Homo sapiens: one gene and its partners. The protein of the gene in region 3 purifies or fractionates together with the protein of the main gene of each other region. This does not show direct contact. Each region holds a gene or a part of one and is shown on either strand. Other genes may lie near its edges. The genes, in order: SNTB2, UTRN and DTNB.

Region 1 (7,362 bases), on a different chromosome or scaffold from region 3:
AGATGATACGGCAGTTTTTCAAGTTTTCAGACATCTAATGGAAGGACAACATGGTACAGCCTGAAAACTTTAAAGACTAAACTTAAAATCTGTCTTTTAAAAGTGGCCTACCTGGATGGGACACCAGCTCTCAATTTTAAATAATGTTTGACTGGTTCAATTAAATCATTGTTTTCAGTGGTTTTACATATTTTGAGTAATTTTATTTTTACACCCAGTGGCTTGAAAATGCAATGTCGTAAATCTACTATATTGACTTCCTCACTACTTATAAGAACAAAAACTGCTTGTCTTGTACAAAGTGGGAAAATAAAGTAGAACCTGCATGTTAGGTAAAAAGGCATTCAATAAACATGTTATTATGCGGCCATCTTTCTAAAAGCACACGTGGCCTATTTTAGCCCAATAAAGACTGGGAAGCATTTACTGCAAGGTTTTCATTTTACTGGTCTGAATACTAGGTTCAAACTATACCTATACAAAAAGTAGGTTGGTTGTTTGTTTTTGAGATGGAGTCTTGCTCTGTCATCCAGGCTGGGCATCCATGCTGGAGTGCAGTGGTGAGATCTTGGCTCACTGCAGCCTCCACCTCTGAGGTTCAAACGATTCCCCTGCCTCAGCCTCCCTAGGAGCTGGGATTACAGGCATCTGCCACCACGCCTGGCTAATTTTCGTATTTTTAGTAGAGACGAGGTTTCGTCATGTTCTCCTGACCTCAGGTGATCTGCCCACCTTGGCCTCCCAAAGTGCTGGGATTATAGGCATGAGCCACCACGCCTGGCCAAAAGGTTTTTTGTGTTTTTTTTCTAAATATGGTGTACAAGGTTCAACTGTCTGCCCATCACAACTGAGGACTACATAAATAGTACTAAATTCAATATTCTGGATGTAAGAATTTATAACCAAATGCTTAGCTAGACCAACTTCAAGGTACACGTTTAGAGTAACAGTTTTTTTTGGACACACACCCAAACCACAATCTATAATTTTACTCCTTCTATTAACACTAATTTCCGAGCAATGTCTAGCCCCACCTAGACATGCAATATAAATAAGGTTTATAAATAGGATATTATAAAGGTGGGACACTGGAACTTCACAACTGGTGTACATGAAATCATTTCTGGTAAATCAGTATTTTTCCAAATATTCACAAGCTGATTTATAAGAAAGTGAAAATCCATTGTGCCAAGTTGGACTTCTGGCCTCTCGGTTTGACGATTGGTCCTTCTTCACCAGCAGCCCCCAGCCCTTCCCTTCTGTCCTTCCTCTGCCAGGAATACCCTCCTGACTCATCCCTGCCTGCCTATGTCCATCACTTCTTGGAGACCTGGCTCAAGATTCAGCTTCGGGAAAAAGTCCTCCCTGGCTAATTCCATCTCCACTAACTATTTTCTAACTTTGCATTCCTTTGGCATTTAAGTATAGTTTCACGACGTAATCACCAACTTCATTCCTTTCCTCCCTATAAGTTGTTTTGCATTTTTCTATCATTTCTCCAACTAGAGACCAAGTAGGGACAGCATCTTCTTTTATATTCTTTTCAACACAGCTAGCCATAATCACCAGTGAAAGAAAGCTGACCGCTCAAAAATTTCTGAAGAAAGCAGCTGACTTTTCGTTTATAATTTACAATACTCTATCACCTCCAACATGCATGAGTCCTTAGAGGAGAGGAATTTTATTTTTGCCTTAGTTCAAATTCATCATGAAAGATCCAACTTACAGATCACATACATATAACTTAACGTAAAGAATAATCCTGGTTATTGAAACCTATCTTGTGATTTGCCATTTCAAGTTTCTTACAAAAACCCCAAGAGTCTTGAAGCAGCGCGCCTGTGAGTGGTAGGAAGCTGGCAGCAGACTTGCAAAAGGGGCAAAACTCTAGTTGGCAGTAAATGTTCAAACACGTGAGCCTCCACTGTTAAACAAGGTTCGTTAACCACACAGACTTGCTGTTTCAGCTTTCTGGCTTCAATGAAATGCTATGATCTCCTTTGGTTATTGTTGAGAGCCAATGATGGGTTAAATTCCCATAAATTAACCAGCGCTTTGGTGGTTTGCCCGAGCATACCGCTGGCATCGGTGAAGATGGACTTTTTTTTTTTTTTAATAGACCCGCCCGCCCCGAGGAGCCAGAGGTGAGTGAGTTAAGCGCCAACCCGGCACTTCTCAGCGGGCAAACGGAGACAGACCCACTCGAGCCGTTCGCTCTCCCTCAAGTTCTTAGTGTCAGCTTATCGGGCCGAGGTGGGGCTTCATAGGCAGCTGCTTTTTACTCAATCTCAGCCGAGTCTTCCCTAGGGGCTGCAAGCCACACTTCGGCGGCTGCCCAACTTTTCCTGCAAGAAGCATCCGTTTTTCCACACTGAAAGCTCCAGAAACCCGGGTTTGGAGAGAGACGGGGAGAGAACCGGCTCGCCCCGCCGGCGGGGCAGGAACAAAGTGAGCTCCCGCGAGCCCAGGCCGCCGCGGCCTGCCCACCCTCCCGCCCGGCCCCGCTCACCCTCCAGCAGCACCTCCTTGCCCGCGCGCTTCAGCGCCTGCACGGCCTGGTCGTGGGTGGCCTGGCGCAGGTCGGTGCCGTTCACCGACAGGATGGCGTCGCCCAGCCGCAGCGCCCGGCTCTGGTCGGCAGCCAGCCCGGGGAAGATCTTGGAGATGAGGATCGGCATCCGGTTCTCGCGGCCGCCCTTGATGCTGATGCCCAGGCCGCCCGCCTCTTGCTTCACCACCCGCACCCGGCGCACGGGCGGCGACGCGCCCGCCTCACCCGCGGGGCCCCGAGGCGGCGCCGGCGGGCTCGGGGGCCCCAGGCCGCGGCTTGGGCTCCCGGGCAGCGAGTCGCCCGCGCCGCCGCCGTTTGGGAGGCCGTTGAAGGCGGCGGCCGCGGGTCCCAGAGCGGGCTCCAGCTCGGCCGCGGCGGCGTCGCCCGTCAGGCTCAGGCTCTCCCCGCTCAGCTCGGCCACCACTCGGACCCAGCGCTCCCTCAGGAGCAGCTCCACCAGCCCCGCTTTGGTGGCCCGCGTCCACACCGCCATGGCCGGCCCCGCTCCAGCCGCCGCAGTCGCCGCAGCTACCCTCATTCCAGTCAGGCAGCCTCGGCGCTTCCCTCTTCCCGCCCGGAGGGGCGGGCCCGGCCCCTCCCCCGCACGATTCATTATTCATGAGGCCACGCCTGCCTCTGGAGGGGCGGGGCCGGCGCAGCCGCTTCCGGGAGGTGCAGAAGTTGTCCGATCACTCGCCTCTCGCCGGACGTGGGCAACCCGAATGCGGTGGGACTGCATTTCTCCTCATCCTTCCATTGGCTCCCCACGGACCCCCCAGAAACTCCTGACCTCTACCGTGCAATTCACGGGAGCTGCCCGGGCACGGAAAGCAAAATCAGCTTGGAGAAACACTTCTCAAGCCTGCAAGACCCGGTGGCACGTTCATTCTTGCATTGATTGGTTCGTACCCTGTGTACTGAGCGCTTAGCCCTGTACTCCGGCTCCTTTTGAGGCCCTGTACTTAAGCTCAATAGTACCAACAACAGCTGAGAGTTTGCGGTCTAGTGGGGAAGGAAAATGCAGAACCAACCAACTAGGTGTGATACTATGTGGTTAAGTGACATGCAGAAGACGTCCCCAGAACAGCATAAAAGGAACATTTGGTTAGGCCTGGGGTCAGCTTCACAGAGGTAACAACGGACGGTGAACAGCTCAAGCAAAGGTCCAACAGCATGATCCAAGCCTTTGTCAATGTTTTGTAATCTCGTTTACTTGCCTGTAATTCAAGAGGGAACCATGTCTTCTTAAACCCTGAAGCCACAATTGGCAGGCCTCAAGGATATTTGCAGAATGATGGTGTCTTAGGGTTCTTCAGAGAAACCAACCAATAGGATATATAGAGATATATAAATTTATTATTATTACAAGGGACTGGCCACGAGATTATGGATGCTGAGAAGTCCCACGATCTGCCATCTGCAAACTGCAGGCCCAGGAAAGTTGGTGGTGCACTTCCAATCCAAGCCCAAAGGCCTGAGACCCAGAATCAGTGGTATAAACCTGAGATTGAAAGTCTGGGCCGGGCGCGGTGGCTCAAGCCTTTAATCCCAGCACTTTGAGAGGCTGAGGTGGGCGGATCACCTGAGGTCACGAGTTTGAGACAAGCCTGACCAACATGGAGAAACCCCATCTCTACTAAAAATACAAAAAATTAGCCGGGCGTGGTGGCACATGCCTGTAATCCCAGCTACTTGGGAGGCTGAGGCAGGAGAATTGCTTGAACCTGGGAGGCAGAGATTGCGGTGAGCTGAGATGGCACCATTGCACTCCAGCCTGGGCAACAAGAGCAAAACTCTGCCTCAAAAAAAAAAAAAAAAAAAGAAAGAAAGAAAGAAAGAAAAAGAAAGTCTGGGCCGGGTGCAGTGGCTTACACCTGTAATCCCAGCACTTTGGGAGGCCAAGGCGGTGGATCACCTGGGGTCAAGAGTTATAGACCAGTCTGGCCAACATGGTGAAACCCCGTCTCTACTAAAAATACAAAAAATTAGCCAGGTGTGGTGGCAGGCGCCTGCAATCCCAGCTACTCAGGAGGCTGAGGCAGGAGAATCGCTTGAATCCGGGAGGCAGAGGTTGCAGTGAGCCAAGATTGCACCACTGCACTCCAGCCTGGGCAACAAGAGCAAAACTCCATCTCCAAAAAAAAAAAAAAAGTCTGAGCCACACGCGGTGACTCACGCTTGTAATCCCAGCACTTTGGGAGACCGAGGCAGGCAGATCACTTGAGGTCAGGAGTTCGAGTCCAGCCTGGCCAATGTGGTGAAACCCCCGTCTCTACTAAGAATACAAACATTAGCCAGGCATGGTGGTGGGCCCTTATAATTCCAGCTACTCGGGAGGCTGAGGCAGAATTGCTTGAACCCAGGAGGTGGAGGTTGCAGTGAGCTGAGATCGCACCAGTGTACTCCAGCCCGGGTGACAAAGCAAGACCCTGTCTCAAAACAGAAAGTCTGAGAAGGGGGTGAGGGTGGGAGTTGGGGTGGGGGGACAATGATGTAAGTCACCATCCCACTGCCAAGGCCCGAGAGCCAGGTTCACCAAAGTCTGAGGGCAGGAGAAGATGGATGTCCCAGCTCAGGCAGAGAATGAATTCCCCCTACCTCTGCCCTTTGTTTTGCTCAGGCCCTCAACTGACTGGATGCTGCCTGCCCACATTGGTGAGGGTGATCTTCTTTAGAGTCTACCGTGGAAATGCTAATCTCTTCCTGAAACACCCACACAGGTATACCCAGAGGTTATGTTTTACTAGTTACCTGGGGATCCCTTAGCCCAGTCAAGTTGACACAAAATTAACATCATAGATGGTTACTTAGGAAGATGCTAGAATTCCAATGTGAACAGAGCATAGGGTCAGTGGAAATGGGAGGATATGAGTGTGAAAAGCATCTTTTTTTTTTTTCTGAGACAAGAGTTTCACTCTTTTTGCCCAGGCTGGAGTGCAATGGCGCGATCTCGGCTCACTGCAACCTCTGCCTCCCAGGTTCAAACGATTCTCCTGCCTCAGACTCCCGAGTAGCTGGGATTATAGGCATGTGCCACCACGCCTGGCTAATTTTGTATTTTTTAGTAGAGACAAGGTTTCTCCATGTTGGCCAGGCTGGTCTTGAACTCCCGACCTCAGGTGATCTGCACGCCTCGGCCTCCCAAAGTGCTGGGATTACAGGCATGAGCCACCACGCCCAGCTGAAAAGCATAACAAAATATCGAGGAGTTTGAACTTGACTTTATAGATCTTTTTTTTTTTTTTTTTTTGAGATGGAGTCTCATTCTGTCACCCAGGCTGGAGTGCAGTGGCTTGATTTCAGCTCACTGCAACCTCCACCTCCTAGTTTCAAGCAATTCTCCTGCCTCAGCCTCCCGAGTAGCTGGGATTACAGGCGCGTGCCATCACACCAGCTAATTTTTGTATTTTAGTAAAGGTGGGGTTTCACCATGTTGGTCAGGCTGTTCTTGAACTCCTGACCTCATGATCCACCCGCCTCGGCCTCCCAAAGTGCTGGGATTACAGGCGTGAGCCACCGTGCCTGGCCGCAGATCTGACTTTCTTAGCCTGGAGGCCATGGCCTTTTGTTGGGGCAAGTGTACGTGGGCATTCCCAAAAATTGTATGCAAAATTTGGTCTCTAAGGTATTTTTTTGAAGCCTGTGATTCATCCAATTGGCAGGAAGTTTCCCTGACCAAAGGCCATGAGCCACTGCTGTGCACATTGCAGAGCCTGCAGTGGCTTTTATTCAGACATGAATGATACAACCCACCCACCTCCTCCAGCTTCATGGACTAGAAGAGCTAAGAAAACTGAGGGCCAGAGAGCCAAAGACCAAAGACCATGGCCCAAAGTCCATAGGAAGGAGGCAGAGACAACTCAGGACTACCAGCCTCTGGATCCAGGGTTATTTTCACTATACAGTACCCTTCAGACCTCAAAAATAAGGGTCCAAGCTGGGCACAGTGGCTCATGCCTATAATCCCAAAACTTTGGGAGGGTGAGGCAAGCAGATCATTTGAGGTCAGGAGTTCAAGACCAGCCTGACCAACATGGTGAAACCCCATCTCTACTAAAAATACAAAAAAAAAAAAAAAAAAAAATTAGCCAGGTGTGGTGGTACACACCCCTATCTCAGCTACTCAGGAGAATGAGGCACAAGAATCTCTTGAACCCAGGAGGCAAAGGTTGCAGTGAGCCGAGATCGCACCGCTGCACTACAGCCTGGGCGACAGAGCAAGAGTTTGTCTCAAAAAAAAAAAAAATTAAAAAAATAAAAAATAAACTAAGGGTCCAGAAAGCACACTGTTAAGAAAGCAAGTGCTCAGCAAAATCATGAGGTCAAGGTGTCCTCTAACTTTTCTTCAGCAGTAGTAGCAAAAAATCCCTGTGTTTTCATGTGGGCAGGGACAGGGGCAAGCAGAGGGAATGTGCACCAATTCCTGTAAAAGGGGCTGTAAACTTGCTTGCTCATGAAGTGCACGTTGAGGCTCGTAAACCGTGGCCGTGCACCACTCTGTGAATGCATGTTCATGTGCAGGCAGAAACTTCTGAAGAGCCTCCTGTAACAGAAGTTAAAATAATAAATGTAGAGGCTGGGAAGTGTCCAGAGCCCAAATGAAGAAAGAATTCAAAATGAGAAAAGTATCTTACCAAAAAAAAAATCATTACAGCAGAATCCTCTTTGCGATTAGTGGAGTCGGATTTTCCAAGCTGCAAATGTCAGCAAAAGCTCAACCCTCCAGCCCTCTCCTAAATCAACTGCAGAGGCCAGCTTGCTGTTCCAGCAGGTCCCAATGTGCCCAAGTGCACCTGCGGTCACAGACGTTC
Region 2 (8,045 bases), on a different chromosome or scaffold from region 3:
CTAATAGCCTTCAATATCATAATGAGTACTTAGGTAACTAAAATCTAGACCAGTTCTCTTTCGGCTACGCTCGCTTTCTTCCCCCACCTTCTCCCCTCTTCTTCTGGTTAACAATGAACTCATGTAACATAGGGATCTTCTCTTTTCACTTCTCAGTAATTTGGACACTTTCCCCCAATAGATTGTTTTATTTTACCTAAAGGTATTCCCTGATCAGCTTTGTATCTTTCATTTGCTTCTTTGTAAAATCAGAGGGTTGGCCGGGGGCAGTGGCTCACGCCTGTAATACCAGCACTTTGGGAGGCTGAGGCGGGCGGATCACGAGGTCAGGAGATCGAGACCATCCTGGCTAACAAGGTGAAACCCCATCTCTATTAAAAATACAAAAAATTAGCCGGGCATGGTGGTGGGCGCCTGTAGTCCCAGCTACTCGGGAGGCTGAGGCAGGAGAATGGTGTGAACCCGGGAGGCAGAGCTTGAAGTGAGCCGAGACCACGCCACTGCACTCCAGCCTGGGAGACAGAGCGAGACTCTGCCTCAAAAAAAAAAAAAAAAAAAAAAAAAAAAAAAAATTCAGAGGGTTGATGGAAAGACTCTGTAAAATCTTTTTCAGCAACAACATTATAAAATTATACAAATTAAATTAAGCCAAGAAAAATTTATAAGTAGGATAAACTCAGCGTAGACTGTGTTTTGTTCAGTTTTCCCCGAAGGTGGTGCTCTGGGTTTCCCATCCTCCACCCTCTCTGCGTCTCTTCCTTCTCTTTTTGGCGCTTCCTTTATTCTCCCATTTTGATCAATCAGTTGCTCTTCTCTGCCCAACAACTTAGTGCTTTTATTTTGCCCTTAGCTTCTTTGGATTCCACATTTCAGCTCCTGTATTCTCAATATTCCTGTCCTCCTTGTCCTCTCATCATTAAACTTTCTCTTCAGAGCCTCATTTCCTCAGAACTGGGCCATGCTTCCTACCACCTGTGCAGGTTAAATTGCCAGGAATAGTCCTAGGGTTTTACCAATTGTAGGTAACCTCCAGGGTGGTCCGAATCGAATGAAACACTTGAATTCAAAGAGATAAAGCTAATCACGGGTATTTCATAATTATGATTGATTCAGTATGGATTTTTTTTTGGTAGGGCAATTTCTTGACCCCTCCAATCATCCAAAGTGGCCTATTTAAGGCCAGCACCCCAGGGCACAGGGGCTCAAAGTGTGGCTCCTCAGCTATTCTGATCTAAAGCTAAGGCATGTTAAACCTGCAGCTTCCTGGGCCCCACCAGGCCTAGTCAATCAGAATTTCTGGGGAATGGCAATCAATCTGAATTTAAAATATATTCTCTGGGTAATTCTTGAGTGCATTAAGTTGTAAGGAACTCAGCCTTTGTACTATTTATTTTCTAAAAGTTTCATGTGCTATTATTTTTTGTTTCTTCAATTCTATTACAAAAATTTATATGATAAAATTTTATCAACTCGCACACATACTAGACGTTTGACTGAAGAATTTACCAACAATACTCAGCAAAAATCCAGTATCTATTACACACAAGCTCCAGATTTATACTTTTTTTACCTGAAAAATATAAGAAAGGCTAAATTCCCTAAACTTTCCTCCTCTCTTAAATGCTTGTATGTGGGGCTTTAATTATAGTCAATACCAAAGGTAAAGCTAAAGGAGTGTCTTGTTTTTTTATACATTGTGTATTTTCCCCTGTTTCTACTGTTTAAAGAAAAACTGCATTTATATAGTCTTGCACAAAGTTTAGTAGCAAATGTTTTCCTTTTGGTTCTTATATTAGGATGCAGTTCCCTGTATGGGAATAATATTTATGTGAATCATGTCTATATACACTATACACACATATACATATATCTTTATATATGAATCTATATATACACTACTCATATCATAATTTTCTCCTTTGTCAAAGGCTTTCTATCCTGCAGTGACACTAACTCCATTTTCCTTAATTTTCACAGTTCTGTGGTGACAGCAGGGCAATTCTGACTTTGGGTTACCAGTAGACCCAGGGCCACATTCCTATTATTCTCTCCAGATGTTCTACAGCGATCTGATCTTTGGGATGAGCAGACAAAACCCCACTGAGCATCCTTGTTGCAGGCCCATTACCTTAGAGGCCTGTCTCCACCGTGCCTCACCTAGATTCTCTGGATATAAAGGAAGATCACACTGTGCTTTATGGAAATATAGCCCTCTGTGGTCAAGATCGCCCACCAAATGTGGTTTCCCTACCAAATAAAGAAAGTGTTGGGGGACAGGACCAGCACAGGACCAGCTTGAGATCTCTTGATCGTTCCATCAACAAGAATTCCGCCCTCCCTCCCTCCCTTCCTCTTCCTTCCCTCCCTCCCTCCTTTATTTCTCTCTTTCTCTCTTTCTTTCTTTCTGACAGTCTTGCTCTGTCACCCAGGCTGGAGTGTAGTAGCGCCATCTTGGCTCACTGCAACGTCTGCCCCGGGGTTTAAGCGATTCTCATGCCTCAGCCTCCTGAGTAGCTGGGATTATAGGCATGTGCCACCACGCCCAGCTAATTTTTGTATTTTTAGTAGAGACAGAGTTTCTCCATGTTGGCCAGGCTGATCTCGAACTCCTGACCTCAGATGATCCACCTGTCTCGACCTCCCAAAGTGCTGGGATCACAGGTGTGAGCCACTGCACCCAGTCAACAAGAATTTCTTTAGCCTCTTTTGCTCATTACCTACAAAGAGCATCAGTCTCTGCCTGGAGAGAAGGGCTAGAAACAGATAGGGCACAGGTCCCCAGGTAACTGGCTGTAAGCCACTATGGCTGATATGCGGGGCAGGTCACTCCTGCACAGAAGGTGGCTTGTTGGCCTCCTGTTCCATCTCTTACAGGCGTTGAGGAAGCTCGACTAAACATCTCCTCACAGCTTACAATCCCAGAAATCATAGGACCCTAAACGTGCGTTTTTCAAAATTTTTGAGCTAAAATGATGTATTACTTTGTAAATTGTGAAAAGTGTCACAAATATTAATTTAAGTGACAACATCATCAAACACTCCAATGTGGCCTTATTATCTATTTTGAAGGAGAAAATCTGAGTTTCATCAACTCAACCAGGATACAGTGAGTGATAAGCAACTTTTGGTGTCTGCAAAATGATCAGTTAAAAAAAACCTGGGGGCTGGGCACGGTGGCTCATGCCTGTAATCCCAGCACTTTGGGAGGCCCCGTCTCTACTAAAAATACAAAAAATTAGCAGGGCGTGGTGGTGGGCGCCTGTAGTCCCAGCTACTAGGGAGGCTGAGGCAGGAGAATGGCGTGAACCCAGGAGGCGGAGCTTGCAGTGAGCGAGATCGCGCCACTGCACTGCAGCCTGGGCAACTGAGAGAGACACTGTCAAAAAAAAAAAAAAAAGAAAGAAAGAAAGAAAGAAAAAATCCTGGAGTCCCTCTATGTGACCATACTCAGCTAGCACTTGATCTGTTCTTTTCTTATGGCATTTATCTCCCGGATCTTGTATATACTTACTTGTTTACATGTCTTATCTCACCTACTACATTCCAAGTTCTTTAAGGGTAAGATCACTATCAGATTTATCTTTGCTTTACCCACAGAACCAGCAAACCTGACAGCCCTAAACTGATGCTTGTTAAATGAATGAATGAAGTGAATGAATAAAATCATACCCATTTCAAGTTAATCCTTTGGATTTTATTTGGCTTATACGTAGAAAATCATCAAAAGGAAGGAAACTGTCCTAGAAACCTTACAAGGAAGAGTCTCTTTTGGGAATCTCCTACCTGCCCCCTCCCTGGAGCACTTAGGGATGGATGGGGGAAACTTTCACTATAACAAAAGGCGAGTAAACTCTTTCTGAAAATTAGTTTAAGGCCCCTAGTGGTTTAATCTTTACTGCCGCGTAAATTAACTCAAATATTAAGCCAGCAATAAACCGGCGCTCCAGTATCAACCATCCTTTTCTCTGTTAATACGAACTAGGAACTCAGGTTGCTGTTTTCTTTCCCCTCCCACGTGTGCTGATCGTGTAAAAGAATCACAGGAACACACGAGCAATGAAATGTGTAAATAAGAAAAATGCACACACATCACGAGCTCATTTCTTCCCAGATATTTTTTGGTCAACCTCTCAAGCTTGGAACAGGCTCTATAACAGATGTGCGTTTGTGTGTGCATATTGGAAAACAGAAAAATAAGGTCAGCGCAAACACTACTTGTAATACAAACTAATGTAAGAGAAAACTTCTTTTTCAATATTAACAACGACACTAGAGAAATAATGTAAAATAAATATACGGTTGGAACTAGGGGTAAAAAAAAAATCAGCAACGTCAGCAAACTGAGATGGGGTGAGTTGGAAGGCAGATTGGAATTTATCTCTTAAAAAAATATCACCCTAACTAGAGACCTGTTTTGCCTAAGGGGACGTGACTCACATTTTCGGATAATCTGAATAAGGGGAATTGTGTCTGCTCGAGGCATCCATTCTGGTTCGGTCTCCGGACTCCCGGCTCCCGGCACGCACGGTTCACTCTGGAGCGCGCGCCCCAGGCCAGCCAAGCGCCGAGCCGGGCTGCTGCGGGCTGGGAGGGCGCGCAGGGCCGGCGCTGATTGACGGGGCGCGCAGTCAGGTGACTTGGGGCGCCAAGTTCCCGACGCGGTGGCCGCGGTGACCGCCGAGGCCCGGCAGACGCTGACCCGGGAACGTAGTGGGGCTGATCTTCCGGAACAAAGTTGCTGGGCCGGCGGCGGCGGGGCGAGAGCGCCGAGGGGGAGCCGGAGCGCTGCAGAGGCGCGGGCCGGAGGGCTGGCGCTGATCTGCACCCTTCTCATCTGGAGAGCGGACCCCTGGCTGCCCGGAGGCGAGCCCCTTCCCGGGGGGTGGGGGCGGCAACGCGCGACCCAGCGGTCCTGCGCCCCACCCTCCCTCCTCCGCCTCCAGCGCTCGGCTCCAACAAAGGGGCAGGCCCGCAGCGGGGAGGAGGAGGAGGAGCCGCCGAAGGAGCGAGCCTCTCTCGCGCACAAAGTTGTGGAGTCGTTTTTCCTCGGAGCAGGGAAGCGGGCAGCAGCAGCCGGCCGCGGGCTTTCTCCCGCCGAGGGGCGAGGAGGAGCCTCTGGCTCCAGAAGCCGATTGGGGAATCACGGGGAGCGGCGCCCCCCTTCTTTTGGGTCATTTCTGCAAACGGAAAACTCTGTAGCGTTTGGCAAAGTTGGTGCCTGCGCGCCCCTTCCAGGTTTGCGCTTTGACTGTTTTGTTTTTGGCGGAACTACCAGGCAGGAAGATTGCACAAGTAAGGGGCGTTTTCAGTCGGGTGTCAATTTCTCTTTCTTTCTTTCTTTTTTTAAAATTTCGGTTCGTGTCTGCTTCTCCAAGCTTTATTTTTTTTTTTAAATACATCGCACCACCAAACTAACACTCGCACACACCCCCGCGGTTACTCCGTGTCAAACTCCTAGAGGAGCCCTTGGCCAGCTCGGGGTGCGGCGGTGGCGACCGGCAGGCGAGGAGGCCCGCGGGCAGCAGGTAAGCCCATGCATTATTGAAGCCTCGGGCTGGTAATGTGACTACAGCCCCCGAGGGAATGGGGCGGGGGCCGGGAGGAGGATGGCTCTTTCTGTGGTTCTTCCGCCTGGGATCGGCGTCCCGAGCTGCTTCCCAAGTCCCAGAGTCGAAGATGGGAGTAACTTTTGCGTGCCCTTTCCTCGGGGCCTCAGTTTAGCTCCCCGCGGTGCGAGAGAGAATGCCGGAGGCGTGGAGAGCTCGGGCGTGGAGGTCCTTGGGATCCGTACTAGTTGTGAACGATCCAAACTTATCTGACCAGCTCTGTGCTGCCTCCCTGCTCCCCTAATCTTCCTCCCCGCCGGGGTGACAGAGTCGCCCTCCGTGCATCGCGCGGTGCAGGGCGCTGGGCCAGTGATTTGCAAGAGGGGACGTGGCCTCTTAGGAGAGTCTGTCACAGACACCCGGGCCCGGGGAAGGCGGGGCTCCGGCGGTGTCCACAGGAGAGGGTGGGCAGAGGGTGGCTGTGTGGTCGGCGGCCAGCGGAGCGCTTCCCAGCCAGCCGCCCGGCGGGGAACGTGCTTGACCTCTGGGTGGTTGCTGCTCCCAAGGGTGGGGCTCCGGAGAGTGTGGCGCGATCGCCAAGCTCCCTGGCAGCGGCCCTGGAGAGACTGAGGGGACAGGAGGAGGGGGGCGCCCCATTGGTGTGTAGTCCCGCGCAGTCGCCGGCTCTCCTTTTCCGGACTCTGGGGATCTCTTGCTGCAACTGACAAGGTAATTCATGCCCCGCTTTGGCCCGGGGTCCGAGGCTGTGGTTGCTCAAGGCCACTTAAAAACCAACAAAGCACCAATTGAAGGCTGTGCAACTTTCAGATGGCAGGTTGTTCAAAGGATTTTTTCCTCCAAGCCTCAGATTATGAAAGGGACTCATTCCAGTGCGTTTTTCGAGGAGGAGGGAGAAAACGTTGCCCGACCTCCGAGAGAGCTGTGGGACCAGCACTTTATTTTACAAGGAACTGCAGAGCTCGGGTTCTAACTCCACGGCCCCGCTCTCTGAGGTGTTCAGGACAGGGCCTCCTCTTTCCCAGCCTTCAGGTCAGCCGGATCACCAGGGCCTTGCGGGCCAGTTCCCCCTGCCGCGGTTGGGAGGGTCAGTGCAGCGGTCGCCGCGGCCAGAGCGCGCGGAGCTCGGGGGAGGCCGGATTCCCTAGGTCTGAGCCGACCCTCCCGGCCGCCCGGCCGGGCGGCAGCGACCGCATCCATTCCTTTGTAAGTTGCACCGGCCTCAGGAAGTCGATCTGGGCCCTCCCGGTTCGTTGGCGGTGGGCGTGGGAGACGCAGCCTGCGGATAGCTCAGGGTCAGGGGAGAGGTGGAGGAATGCGAAGCTTGTGGGTAGTTCTGCGGTGACGGACAGGGTTGGCGTGGAACCATTCCCCGCCCCTTTTACCAGCCTTTATGGGACCGATGAGACAACTCTTTAACTCTCCTTTGGGTGTTTACCTAAAATTTATTGGCTCTGTAAACAGTATTAATCACAGTAGTATTAACCTTCCCTGGAGCGCTTCCGAGTGTAAATGGCAGTTCTTGGCACTCACCGTTTTCTTTTACTGTGTTTCAAGCAGAGCAGCAAACTCTTGTCCGCTTGGCTTCCTTTTCTACTATCTCAATCGTTCCTAGGTTTTGGTTCCTATAGTAAATTAATGAATAGTGTTTGCATTACACAGCATTTCCATCATAATGCACACTGTTGGATATATATGTGCTATATACATAAAATATAGTACAAAATAAAAATTATATACATATATTCATTGTATAATTCCTAAAATCTTAAAAAATTGAAACATTAGTTTTGTCTTTAAGGCTGTCACCTTATGTTTATTTTTTAAACACCTTATGTTTATTTCATACACTCTTGCTTGGTGGTCCATATGACAGCCGGAAGCGTTCTGAAGGGAGAGTTAGTGAATATCGACTTGACTGGATTGGTTTCAGTAAGAACATCTGGCTTTTACAGAATATCATTTGAGGGAAGGGAAATCTAGGGCAGAGGTAACAATAAATTGCATTTGTATAGGGCTTGAAGCTTCTAAAGCAACATCTCATTCATTGATTCTCAGTTTCTCACCTAGCCTTCTGTGAAGATGGTGTTCCCTCCATTTTATAGGTGTGGAAGACGGAGGGTCACACTGGGATGCATTGTTCGTGGTGAAACTTTGATTCTGTCTCCTGAGAACCAAAGATTCTGCATTTGGCAATTAGAAGGAGTCATCCTTTGCCTTAAGTGTACTCAAATTCCTCTGGCCATTAATGGCAAGTAACCTCAGTGGCTATCACTATTTAAATAGCCTTCTGTTATTCTTCTTTCTCCCCATTTTCCTCTGTACTCTGATCACCTTTTCTGCTGTATCTTTGCAACCTGTAAGGGATTTTCATTATCAAGAAGAGAAAAATTTGAAAAATCACCTTGAGGAGAGTGGCAAGTGAAACATTATAGTGAAGAAGTGTTACTGATAATGGGCAAATGGAATAAAGTAGTGTGT
Region 3 (7,102 bases):
GCACCTGGCCTGGTCTTGCTTTATTAACTAGATCATAAACTTCTCCAGTCAAAGGGTCATCTTTTGTGTTCTACTTGTATCTACTTCCTGTATCCCAACTACCTATCCCAGGATCAGGAAATGAGGAAGCTCTTGGTGATCGACTGACCTTGTCACCTGGAAGGTAAAACCTGACTGTCAGATGGGAAAAGTAGGTACAGGGACCTCGGGTCCGAAAGCTCTGGGAAAGGTGGTGGCAGGGAGGAATGCAGAAACAAAGTGGGGGGCGGCTGATCCATGAGCTCGGGCTCCCCATTTAAACGAGCAGTCCTGCTGAGCTGCCTTTACCTCTGTCTTTCCCATTCTGCATCTTCTCTTCTTCTTCCTCTGCACCTTCCTCTGCTGTGAAAACAAGTCCAAGGAGGCCAGTGACCCTTCGGCACAGGACAAGTACAGAAGGAGGGTGAACAAAGCAACTGCTGAGGCTTGGGAGGAAACTCTAGCTAACAGCTCCTGGCTGCAGGCCTCTGAGGGTGCTTCAGCTCACCAGTCTGCACTTGTGCGGCCCACGCCCCAGCACTGCTGAATAGGAGCCCGTAAGACCACAGCCCAAAGGGAGCAGTGCGGTCACATCGCTCACTTTCCTGACCAGGGCTGGGGGCGTGCAGTGTGGGGTTGCGTGCCTCTGTTCTATGCCTGTCTGCCCTCAGGTGGTGATGACCAGGGAGACATCTAATGTCTTGCATTCAGGTTTAAGAAAGTGACCATACAATATATGGTGGGGGAATACCTAGATTAACACGGGGTTCTGTTAAAAAAAAAAAATTCCGTATGTTTTAGCTGATGATAAACTTAAAATGACCGCACAGTGCAAAGTGGCTATGTGGGAAGTGCTAATGCCGTCTAAGGTGCTTTTCCAGGGGACACTCAAGAGGGTCACAGATGCCTTGTGCTCTGCAGGGACAAGATCCCCTGTGATGGAGAGCAGGGTGCTGGGCCCTGGGCATGTACTTTGAATAGGAGCCTTGGAAAATGGCCACATCCTGGTATGGTCAAGCAGGCTGGTAAGAGAAAACCATGTCACGTTTGGAAAGGTTGAAGGAATTGGGTGTAGCAGTCTACAGAGGAGAAAACTAGGAAGGGTTGTCATTTGCCATCCAACCCGTGAAAGGCGAGCCTGCAGAGGAGGGACTGAGCTTATCCTGGGTAGCTTGAGAGGACAGGGATAAATCAGTTACAGAAAGTGAGATTTTGGCTCCCCACTGAGGAAGAAGTTTCCAGTGATTAGAGTTGATCATGAATGAGCTCGCTGGAAATATTCAGAGGACTGTTTTATTGGGTGGCGAGTTGGATTAAATGACTTCTAACATCCTTTACAATTTTTTTCTTTTCTTTTCTTTTTTTTTTTTTGAGATGGAGTTTTGCTCATTGCCCAGGCTGGACTACAGCGGCGCGATCTTGGCTCACTGCAATCTCTGCATCCCAGGTTCAAGCGATTCTCCTGCCTCAGCCTCCCGAGTAGCTGGGATTACAGACATGCACCACCATGCCAGGCTAATTTTGTATTTTTAGTAGAGACGGGGTTTCATCATGTTGGTCAGGCTGGTCTTAAACTCCTGACCTTAGGTGATCCACCTGCCTCAGCCTCCCAAAGTGCTGGGATTACAGGTGTGAGCCACTGTGCCTGTGGCCTCGATCCTTTCCAATTCTAGGATTCGATTATCTGTGAAAAAACTTTATAAAGATGAGGACTACAAGCTATGTATATACAGTATGTATACACTGTATAGAATATATGTAAAGATAATCTGAGTATGTCCTCTCATTGGAACAAAAACCTGTCAAGTCACTGTCAAGGAGACAGTAAAAACATGTTGGTGATGGGTGAAGCTATTCCATTCACTGAGAAATTGGCACCCTCACATGTAAAGGGAGTTTATGTCTGCATGTTAGAGGGATACCGTGCCATGTGTGGCTTTGGTCCACGTCTACCTACAGGCTTCAGTGACTGAGAGGACAGCATCAGGGAAAGGGGCCTCTGGGACTCTGGGTTTGCTATCTTGTCCTGGAGGGGAGTAAGATCTCTGGCTTGATGCTCTGAAGACCCAGGTTCTAGGACCAGCTTTCCCCCTTCAAGCTGCACGACCTTAGGCAGACCACTTTTCTGATAAGCACAGGCTACATCTCTAAAGTAAGGGACTGGACAATGTGCTCTCTAAGGCACCTTCCAAATTACACTACATAATTTTGTTGAAACCATCCTTTCTTACTATGAGACACTGCTGAGGATTCCTATAAGCTTTACATTTTTGTGAAGCTATTTGGTCTCTATGTGCTTTCCACTTAATGGTATTTAATGACCTCTCACCCTAGCACGATGAACGCAGAAGCCACTTATTTTGCATAAACTCTAATAAGTGGCCATGAAGTACAAGTGTAGTTAATTCCCATGGCCCGAAATTCCCTGAGAAATTTCCTCTAAAAGTGGGATTTCTGACATCTGTGGGGAGCTGCATTAGGGAAAGCGCCTTCTAATCACCTGTGAGGTCATCCTGAAGGCTGTCGCCTCTTCTGTTTATGTGTACAGAGCGGGGCCGTGCTTCTGATGGGGGTTGAGAAACAGTGCTAGAATGGAGAGGGTGGCACCATCAAACAAGAGAGGCAGCGTCTGACCTTAACTGACTGGAAAGACGAAGCTGGGCTATACACTCACTTTGGTCTGTATGAAAACAGGCAGACTTGAGAGCAGAGCTGGGGGCTCTGTCCAGTCCCATGACAACCCTAAACATGTGAGCTTTCTCCTACGAAGGGCTGAAAAATACCCAAGGCTTGCCTTCCCTAAGAGTGTTTGAATAAGTGTATGTGTTTGAATCGTCCGTGGAAAAACTGCTTTATCTTTTTATTTAATAATCCTGTTAAGCTACTTCAAGGTATTTAAAAGCACTACATTAGGTGGAAAGAAACAAAAGAGAGCCATCAGTGTGAGTGACCTACAGCGCTTAGGGAGGGAAACCATTAGTTTAACACAAAACATGGAGACCCCACCGCTGTGAAATCGTTAGTGACTCTCTGGCCCCTACGTAACTGGTAGAGTCATGGGGATTCCTGGAGATAGGAGGATACGTGAATGGCCTTTTATTTTCTCTCTCTTTCCTGGGTTTTATGTAAGGTGAAATGCCACGAGGTAAAGGTCTTTGGGAAGTCACTGAATTGGTGAGGTGATGGAGAGACTGAGAAAGAAGTCACAGATGAGCTGAACACAAGGAGCAGAAGAGGCGACAGACTCAGGTCATGAACTTCAGGTGAAATCAGAGCCTGGTCACGGACAAAAGGAGGGAATAGGTTTCAAAAACAAATCAAACAGGAGAGAGCAGAAAGGCAGCAGGGGAAGGTCCAGAGCTTTCCTGGCTGATTCCGCTCCAGACCTCCAGGGAAGTTTCAGAATGAGGTGGTCGGTCAGGCCTAGGGAGAGAGCGGCTGTGGACAAAGTACAGATGGAAGACGAGGTAAGTGAGGAAGGGGCCTGCCTGCACTGAAAGGTCTGAATTTCTCTACATTCAGCTTGCTCCACAAGATGCACTCCTGAGATAGGCCTGAATGTGAAACCGCCCCTACGCGATCCTGTGTGACAGAGGCTCTCTGGGTGGAGACATCCAGTGTGTTCCTAGAAGGCAAAGTTAGGTGATGAAATGGGGTGGTGCAAGCTGGGTGGTGAGGTTCTGCCGGTGCTGGCAAGGAAGTGAGAAGGGCGCGGGCAAGGCAGGGGAGGCCAGGAAGCTGGCTGGGAGCTCTGGGTTTCACCTGAATGGAGCTCCTTCACCAGGGATGACATGGTGTTGGTGATGGAGTCAGCTGCCACCAGCAGGTCATTGCGGAGGTTTCTCCTCGTACCTGAGGAGAGGCAGAGCAGATGGGGATGCCAGGGTGGGTGAGCGTGGAGAAGAGACGGCTGAGCAAATGCCTCAGTTCTGCCAGGCCCGAGAACACAGGTGTGGAACACCTAAGGGGAGATGGGGCCACAGCAGCTCCACCCATTCCCAGGCACACCGGGGGCAGGAGGCACCAGCCCACTGGTCCCTCTCCCTCTGCCCTCTCTACCTAGGGAGCAGCATCCTGTCAACTCCACGCTTTGCCGCCACCACACAATCCAGAGCTGGGTTCCAGAATAAGCATTCCACCGAGGTCTTCCTCAGCCTTGTGGGGGTGGGGCTGTACTCTCCACAACCACCACTACCACCTCCCCTTCTCACCTCCAGCCCCAGCAGGACTTCCCTCTGAATCCCCACCCAACTACTTAATACTGCTGGTCACCAGCTCCCCCGATGACTGTGACAATGGCGTGCATACTGTGCTTTCAGCACGGTCCCAGTTACAGTGCCTGTTACAGTCCCTTCTAGGCCAGGGAATTATTCCATCCAATTCCTCTGGAGGAGACAAAGCCCAAAGGACAAAGCACTTCCAATAATCCAGAAAAAAGGGCAGAGAACCCCAGGAGGCCTGTTCTTGGCACACATAGGAAGCCTGCAGCCCTCCCGCTGGAGACCAGCCCGTCTCATGAGAAGGGGCCAGCACCTGACTTATTTACACTGTCTGTCAAAATCTGATCATTCCAAGCAAAGAGCACAAAACAGAAATGGAAAAAACCTCAGCAGGAATCTTGTCCGTGTTTGCACATCCCTTCAGCTCCCCGCTGAACTCTGCTCCAGAAACTCACCTTGTGCGAAGGCCTCCTGCACGTCTCCCCCGACTCCGCTCAGCGAGTCCTGCGGACAGTGGGTGGGGGTGGAGCCGGCAGACGTGGAGCGCACTGGCATGGGCATTGGCCGGCCGCCTCCATGGGTGGGCGATGTATGTGGTGACCCTGTGGCCTGAGCCTGGAGATTCAAAGACAGAAAATACGTTATCTCAAGTACCTGACCTCTTTGAGGAAGGAAGAAAGTACTTTTTCTCCATCAACCAGAGCCAGCCAGTGGGCCTCAGTTCAGTGGTACAAGATCATACTTGAAAGGAAGGAGTTAGGCTGCTTCCAAGACTGGAGAGAGGAAGAAAAGGAAAAAAGGAAGGGGGCGTGCAGGGCAGAGAGAGAGAACATCCTAAGAACAAGACCAAGAATGGGAGGGAAAGAAGAGGCTGGCACAGAGTGGTGGAGACAGAGTGAGCTGCGTGACTGGGCCAGGGCTCTAGAAGGGCTTGGCTTGCAGGGCAGGAAGTAACATGCAAACAGCTTTCATTTTGTTTGCAAACACATTCATGTACATGTTCTCATTTGGACCCCTCCCCCCGCTGCTGCCGGCAACCTGTGAGTGGAAAGGACATACGTGTGTGTGTGTGTGTGTGTGTGTGTATGTATATATTTATATACGTATATATCTTTTTTGGAGACAGAGTCTTGCTTTGTTGCCCAGGTGGAGTGCAGTGGCACGATCTCAGCTCACTGTAACCTCCGCCTCCCAGGTTCAAGAGATTCTCCTGCTTCAGCCTCCCGAGTAGCTGGGACTACAGGTGTGCGCCACCACGCTGGGCTAATTTTTTGTATTTTTAGTAGATACGGGGTTTCAACACGTTGTCCAGGTTGGTCTTTAACTCCTGAGCTCATGCAATCTGCTCGCCTTCGCCTCCCAAAGTGCTAGGATTACAGGTGTGAGCCACCATACCAAGCCAGGGTATATATTTTTATGTCCATTTTATAGAAGAAGAAGAATGGAAAGAGACGTTGTGTCAGGCCACACAGCTTGCCAGTGGGAGGCATGGGAACAACCCCTTGACTCCAAGGGTGGCAGTGTGCACTCTGCAGGTTGTGACCCCACTTCCTGCAGGGCATGCTCTGAGCATGTGCGGAGCTCGGCTGCAGGCTGCAAGCGGGGCCATGGGGCCAGTCATGCCACATGCACTGCACATGTACAGCAAGGCTGTCCGGGGCCACCCCGCGGGGACGAGGTGAGAAAGGACACATGGTAAACAGAAACCAAGCTTTCCTTGGGAGGCCCTGGTATAGTTGTGGAGAAAGTTTGGAGCAATGGGATAAAATAAATAAAAGGAGAAAACTAATCAAGGGCCGCTCACTGAGATGTGGGCTCTGTAGCTCTTCAGCACAACGGGAACTGAGTGTGGAAGGTGGACTAGGGTTTTCTGTGGAAGCAAAACTGGAAAAAATAGAAGCCAAAGTGTGAGAGTGAATTCAAATGAAGACAGTTATCCTTCTTCTAGCTTTCTCAGCTAGAAACCCCATATACAAACAGAATTGGCCCTGAACAGGTGGACAGGCTGGACGCACGACACCCCACCGCAGTGCTTCAACCGTGTGGCCACCAAACTCAACAGAAATGGATTGTTTTCTGTGGTTCTTACTTTGAATCATTTGTGTGTGTGTGTGTGTGTGTGTGTGTGTGTGTGTGTATGTGTATTTTGAGAAGTTAAAAAAAATACAGAAAACTAAAAAGTACAACATAATTAACCACCCCAAATTGGTAACTTCATATTGTGTCAAATGTATTTCAACCTAAAAATATTGCAGAAAAATTTGCAATATTTTTGTCCACCAGTTCTTTCCTGTTCCAGTTCTTTCCTCTCCTCCCTTCAGAGGCAACCCCTATCAAAATTCTGCTGTGAAACTTTTAACCTATATGTGCATGTATAGCTATGAATAATAGATGGTATTTCACGCTTTTAAATTTTGCATGAATGGTATTGTACTGCTCATATCACTTTGCAATTTGCTTTAATCACTTAGCATGCTTTCTGAGATCTTTCCATGATACAAATAAATATGAACTAAATCAAAATGGATCATAGTAACTATAAGAGCTAAAACTAAAATGGATCATAGTAACTATAAGGGCTAAAACTATAAAATTTCTCTAAGAAAACACCCAAACCATGATATGTAAAAACAAAACCAAACAGATAAACTGGCTTTCATTGAAATTTTAAACTTTTTCTTTTCTTTTTCTTTTCGTCTTCTCTTTTTTTTTTTTGAGATGGAGTTTCACTCTTTCACCCAGGCTGGAGTGAAGTGGTGCGATTTTGGCTCAGTGCAACCTCCGTCCCCTGGGTTCAACCAATTCTCCTGCCTCAGCCTCCAAAGTAGATGGGATTACAGGTGCGTGTGTGCCACCATGCCTGG

The links.
Region 1: the proteins of DTNB (region 3) and SNTB2 purify together in Homo sapiens (affinity purification with mass spectrometry; 2 studies listed by BioGRID and IntAct, with this or other methods). This does not show direct contact.
Region 2: the proteins of DTNB (region 3) and UTRN purify together in Homo sapiens (affinity purification with mass spectrometry; 3 studies listed by BioGRID and IntAct, with this or other methods). This does not show direct contact.

Annotation. Positions count from the first base shown.
Region 1 is NC_000016.10:69,182,894-69,190,255, reverse strand, and holds the start of SNTB2 (beta-2-syntrophin), read right to left. Parts: upstream 3,093-7,362; 5' UTR 3,090-3,092; coding exon 2,510-3,089; intron 1-2,509. UniProt on the Homo sapiens protein: Adapter protein that binds to and probably organizes the subcellular localization of a variety of membrane proteins. May link various receptors to the actin cytoskeleton and the dystrophin glycoprotein complex.
Region 2 is NC_000006.12:144,280,297-144,288,341, forward strand, and holds the start of UTRN (utrophin), read left to right. Parts: upstream 1-5,038; 5' UTR 5,039-5,525; intron 5,526-6,201; exon of another isoform or gene 6,202-6,374; coding exon of another isoform or gene 6,375-6,983; exon of another isoform or gene 6,984-7,658; intron 7,659-8,045. Other genes in the region: uncharacterized protein LOC124901418, read left to right, coding at 6,375-6,983.
Region 3 is NC_000002.12:25,383,509-25,390,610, forward strand, and holds part of DTNB (dystrobrevin beta), read right to left. Parts: intron 4,854-7,102; coding exon 4,694-4,853; intron 3,871-4,693; coding exon 3,781-3,870; intron 3,644-3,780; coding exon of another isoform or gene 3,591-3,643; exon of another isoform or gene 2,854-3,590; intron 2,605-2,853; coding exon of another isoform or gene 2,555-2,604; exon of another isoform or gene 2,519-2,554; intron 1,703-2,518; exon of another isoform or gene 1,558-1,702; intron 382-1,557; coding exon 328-381; intron 1-327.